2 separate regions of the Homo sapiens genome follow, and region 2 is linked to region 1. Evidence: fine-mapped QTL for protein levels in blood plasma. Region 1 holds a variant in brackets. A gene starts in the other region. All regions are shown on their forward strands.

Region 1 (2,500 bases):
AGAAGCTGTACATTTTTTTTTTAAGAGTTGACTTTTGAAGCACTTTGCACTCTGGTGAAAGGTACATCCAGGCTAAAGGCTTAGGAAGAGAAAAGACATAGAAGCAAGACACGGAGGGAAATCTAGTGGGAGTGGCAGGGCCTGTGGCTCCAGGAGGTTGGGCATGGGCAGAGGAGAGCAGTGGGGAGATGGGCCTGGTGGCAAGATAGGGCCAGCTTTTGAAATTCTTTAGTTATTTATTGAGTAATTTAGATAAAAACAAGAATCATTAATAAAAGGCGGAGAATTATTTTGGCTTCATGGCAGGTGGTACAGCTTGGGCTTATAATTCTGTAAGACTTTGGGCAAGGAACCTAACCTTCCTGTGTTACCAGTTTATTCGTCTGTAAGTAAAGTGGGTCTAATATACTGAGGTAATCTTTGAATTACTTAAGACAGTGCCTTGTGCATAGTATGAGTTCCATACTCCTACTATGGAACTCTTGGTAGTGGTAGAAGTGAAATTTGAACTGGGCCTTAAGAAAAAGAATTTGGACAGAGGGTTATCAAAATGGGGAATTAGTGATGTTGGGGAGTTAGGAAGACTGATCGTATTGTTTATTGAAATGTACTTTAGAAATGAAGTTGGAATTAGATCAAGTGGACCATTAATTCCCAGTTAAGAGTTCTAAGTGAATAAAGCCCCTAAGACTTGATTTTAAAGTATTAAAAATAAGTAAACAAATGAAAAGCCTAGTGAAAGAAAGTATTTCCTTAGGGGTTATCAAGCTTTTAAGAATGGGTTTGCCATGGTGTTAAACCCCCACCGCTGTCTTCAACATCCCCCCGCCCACCATCCCCACCCCTGCCTGATGGCTTAGTTGCTCTGTGAGCTCACTCCTGAACAGCAGCATTCCCGTGGCTTGGCAATCTCTGGTGTAAACAGTTCACTTTATAAAAATGTACGCACTCTAAAATCTTGTAGTGCCCTTTCCCCTTTAATTTCC[A/G]AAGCACTTATTTGTTTCTCTCTTGATTATCACAGTAACCTTGTGAGTTAAGTATGGCAGTTGGCAGGAGTCACCATTTTACATGCCGTGGAACTGAGTCTCTAAATTTAATTTAAGCTAGTAAATGGCAGAGATGGAGACATGAAACCTGGACCCTGGCTCCTAGTTCCAGCGCTCCATCTGCCACAAAACATGGTTTCTGTGGAGTAATGATGGCTTATGTACACTTTTATTTAAAGTGTGCTGTTTTTCCACATGGCCTTGCTTTCATGTTGGCATCTGATGAGTCATGCAAATATAGGGTGGCACGGGTGATTCAAATGACAGGATGAGTAAAACTCAGTTTTGGTCTTCGTGGCCATGTGGCTTGCACTGAGACCTTTAACTTTGCTTCCTACCTTTCAGAGAAGGAAGCACCAGGTATGAATTCTCTCAGTTCTTTCTACCTACAGTGCCACCCCCGCCCCCAAATCATAGCAGCCACCATTTGTCTCTTTCTGTTTAATCTCACAGAAGGAGGTGTTCTCAACTCCCCCACTCTCAACCTTTGGTTAGCTTAAACCTTTCCCTTATTACTCAGCTCTTTCATGATAGTCTATAGTTACATTTAGGCCTTTCCCAACTGAAAGAGCAAAACAAACCCTTCTTCACTCTTGTGTCTTCTCTAATTACTACTTTCTTGTTCCCTCCACAGCAAAAGCTCTGGAGACAGAAGTAGGTAAACACTGTTCCTGCTTCCTCTCCTCCCCTCCCCTCTACTTGCAACCCATTGCAGCCTGCTCTGTGCCTTCACGCCACTGCCTCTGCCGGCAGGAGCCACTAGTGGACTGTATTGGATGAATTCGAGGAATGCTCTTTAAGGCCTTATCCTACTTGACATCTCTGTAGCATTTGACACTTGACCACCATCACCTTAAACACTCTCCTCCCCTGTTGTCTGGGTTTTCTTCTACCTTTTTGTACGTGCCTTAATCTCCTTTGGAGGCTGCTGTTCCCACTCCTCCTCCAGGGCTCTGTCCTCAACCATCTTTTCTCATTCTGCAGCCTTTCCCTGGTGACCTCATTTGCACTTAAGATTCAACTGCCGTTGCTCACGAACACCAGAGTGATTTTCTAGCCTAAAACTCTTAAAACGTATTTTGAGATCTAGGTTCTGTTATCCACCTGCCCACTGGACTTTTCTAGTAGGTGTTGCACAGGCATCTTAATTGAACCTGTCTAAAATGGATTTTTTTGTGCCCCCCTCTCCCTGTATCACTTCACACACAGAATGTTCTCCTTCCTCCTGGTCATCAGTTCTCAATTCCTTTCTGTCATATACTCCATTGTTTTGAAAGCAGCTTGATCCTATGGAGATTACTTTATAAACATTCATAGCTTCTCCTTTTCTCTGTCCCTCATTTAGTATGGATTTTTACCGTCTTTCTTGAACTGTTACAACTTCTTTCTAACCTCTCATCTTGCTGTTTTCCTGCTTCTCAGTATGCCACATTATTTCACATGAGTGATTTGAT
Region 2 (3,006 bases), not on the chromosome of region 1:
CATCCAGGCGCCCTGGGTGATAGACTGGCTGGCCTGAGTTGGTGACTGAGAAACCTCAGGGATTTGAAAGATGCCAGGACTTGGGTCACTCAGAAAAGAAAACCTCAGGGTAGGGGTTCAGGACAGAAGTGGGGAGGAGCTGGAGATCCTGAGAGGACACCGGGGGCATGGCAGCCGGGAAGAAACCTGCTTAACAGCCTCAGCGGCCCGGGGAACGAGAGCGCCCAGCCCCAGCCTGCACCCAGCTGTACGCTGAGGCTGGGGACCAGGGAGAGACAGGCTTTCTTAAGCAGGGAGGGTTTGAGCCAGCGACAGCCACTGTGCAAAGTTACTGAGGATTAAACAAATCAGACTTGAAAAATCCAGCGAGTGTGTGAGTGTGTCTGGATGGGGGAGGGGGCACTATGCAATCCCCTTTCCCAGAGACAGCCCCAGCCCAAGGCACCCAGCCCTGATAGAAACACCGACTAGAAGCCCAGAACCTGGGAAGGGGTGCGGGGAATGAGAAAGCGGTGCAGGGGTTGGGGGTAGCGGAGCGGCTTGAGGCTTGCACAGTGCAGAGCTGGGCTGTTAGGGATCGGGACCGAGGCAGGGTCGGGCAAGCAGGTGCAGGCAGGCAGCACGGCTCCCCCTGGCCCCAGTACCTTTCTCGAGCTCGCTGATCCGCTGGTGCAGGGAGGTCAGGGCGGTCTCGATCTTGACCCTCTCCTCGGTGTCGTTCCTGGGGCCCCCCTTGCCCTCCTCCAGGGTGTTCACCCGGGACAGCACCTGCCTCTCCAGCTCATCGATCTTGCTCTGCAGCAGATCCTTGAGGCTGTTGGTCTGGCTGGAGGAATTGAGGCGGCTGTACTGCTGCGGGGTGCAAGGGCGGGGGAAACCACACCGTTAGGCGAGGCGCGGGGACCGTGCTGGAAGGCCCGCGGCGCGGTCCCCTCTGGGCGACTGCGGGGGCGGCCTGGCAGGGAGCTGGGGCGAGTGGCCGCCGCGGGGCCTCGCAGGCGCGGGGAGGCACCGGCCGGGCACCCGCGCGGCTGAGGCGAGGGCGGGGGATGCCTGGCCGGGTAGGGAACGGGGTGGGGGAGGGCAGAGGGGCGAGCGAGCCGGAGGGGGAACCGGAGCCGAGGGCGCGCGCGGACCTCGAGGTTCTCCAGGCGGGTTTTGAGCGATTGCAAAGTTTGCCCGAGTTGGCTGAGCGTCTCGGCGGCCGGTGTCCGGGACAGGTCGCCCATGGTGTTCTTGCCCGAGCCGGGCTGCTTGCGGCCGCCGCCCGCCCGGGCCTCGCCGGCTCCGGGGTCCAGCGTGCTCTGGCTCTCGCAGCGGCCCAGCTTGGCGGTCAGCTCGCGGATGGTCTCCTTCTGGCTCAGGATGGTCTCCTTCTGCTGCAGCACCGTCTCGCGGAGCTGCAGCACGCTGCTCCGGAGCTCCTCGGCGCCGCCGGCGGCCACGGACGCGGCGCACATGTCGGCGTCCACGGGCACCGAGGTGCAGATGAAGCGCGTCGGCCCGAAATCCTGGGCCCCGGCGCCCAGGAGGCAGAGGGCGAGCAGCGCACAGGTGCGCGCGGCGCGGCCGGCCGGCATGGCTGCGGGCACCGGGCGCTCCGGGCCCGGCTCGGCTCGGCTGGGGCTCGGCTCCGGCTGGGACCCGGCTCGGGCTGTGGCTCCGCGAGCGGCCCGCGCTCTGGGCGCCGCGCTCTTCGGCCGCGCGGTCCACACCGCCGCGCTATCAGGCCCCCACTGCCGCCTGCGCTGCGGAGCCCGCGCCTTTTATGCCGCCGCGGGAGGGGCCTCGAGCCGCCGACGTCAGCGGGGGAGGAATCCCGCTTTAATTGTCCGCGGCCCGGGCCCGCGGCGCGGCGGGGGTCTCACGAGCGCGCCACCGGGGCTGCCTCCGCTCGCGTCCCCCCCGCCCTTCTGGGAGCTGCCGCGGCCCCCTCCTCCCCCGCCCCCGCCTGGGCCGGCGCTGCTGCCCCGAAGGCTCCGAGAGCTCAGGGGGAAGGAAGTCGGGCTCCGGCCCCGGACTCGAGGATGGACCACCTGCGTGGTGTCCCCGAACCTCCGACGGGGCTCCAGGCGGGCGGGAAACCACCGCGTCCGGGAGATAGAATTCGGTTCGGCCCTCCTGGCTGCACTGAACACCCTTGGGCCGGGGTCGTTTGGAGCCGGGCTGGGTGCCCAAGGACCCAGGTCGTCAACACCCGAGTGCCCGGTGGTCAACGGCTCGGAGTGGGGCCTCGCGGCGCCACTAAGTCCAGAGCGGGGGTCACCGGGCCGCCCCGCGTTTCTTAGATGTCCGTGTGCTATTGAGAAGCCGCCGGGCAGCCTGGGTACAGGGACTTCCCACGGGTCGGGGCCCCCGGCGCCTCCCCTCCCCCAGCTCCCGGGCTCTGTGGACCCGGCCCCGTCCCCGGGGGACTGTCAGTCCCCACCCCGTGCGGGCGGGGCGCTGGGGACTTCTCGGAGGCAGACCTAGCTGATCGAGCCTTTCCTGTCCGCGGCGCCGGCCCGATCGCGGGCAGGCGGCGTCGCCGGGGCTGGACGTTCGCAGCGGCGCTTCGGAAGGGGGCCCCGCGGGAGCAGCCGCCCGCGTCTCCAGCAGCTTCCCCTTGCCAGGCGCCGCGCGCGCCCGGTATCCCCGGGTGTCCACCTGTGCGTGGGGGGCTGTTTCCCGTCTGTCCAGCCGCGCCCACTTCTCAGGCCCAAAGGCCAGCAGGAAGGGTCCCGGAGGTGGCTGGGGGCGTCCACCTGAGAAGCTCCGCTCTCGCTCAGACACCCCACCCGGCACCCGCGCACTCGCGCCTTCATCTGGACCGCGGGGCTCGGCTCCCGAGATCGCGGTCCGGGTTCCGGCGCCGGGCTGGGGGCTCAGGACCAGGGCTGGCGCAGCCGCCCCGCCCCGCCCCGCCCCGGGGCTATCAGAGCGGTCAAAGCCTCGGAAATCCCTCCGTCCACGCTCCCGTGGTACAGAGAAGGAAACTGAGGCTCCGAGACTGCGGGGCCGGGCTAC

Which allele goes with the higher level. Positions count from the first base shown, and alleles are read on the strand shown. Strength reflects both the effect of a copy and how common the allele is.
As copies of A replace G in region 1, the plasma level of the protein whose gene starts at base 1,741 in region 2 goes up (weak association).

What was found. PIP is the chance, under the fine-mapping model, that this variant and not a neighbour inherited with it causes the effect. The UK Biobank Pharma Proteomics Project read protein levels with antibody pairs (Olink). The fine-mapping took linkage between variants from a reference panel, not from the people measured, so its PIPs are less certain.
Region 2: it holds the start of NPTX1, and the variant in region 1 is fine-mapped to the plasma level of the NPTX1 protein (UK Biobank, PIP above 0.99).

What each region holds. Positions count from the first base shown.
Region 1 is chr4:87,057,074-87,059,573 of GRCh38, forward strand. All of the region lies in intron 4 of AFF1 (ALF transcription elongation factor 1), which reads left to right. Among named protein-coding and RNA genes, the nearest start is that of AFF1, 120 kb to the left of the region's middle. RefSeq lists an enhancer at 1,660-1,749. The variant A/G (reference allele first, on the strand shown) is at 987.
Region 2 is chr17:80,474,867-80,477,872 of GRCh38, forward strand. It overlaps NPTX1 (neuronal pentraxin 1), which reads right to left and starts at 1,741. Exons shown (of 5, transcript NM_002522.4): 1 at 1,137-1,741; 2 at 645-852. The coding sequence starts at 1,580. RefSeq lists an enhancer at 195-728.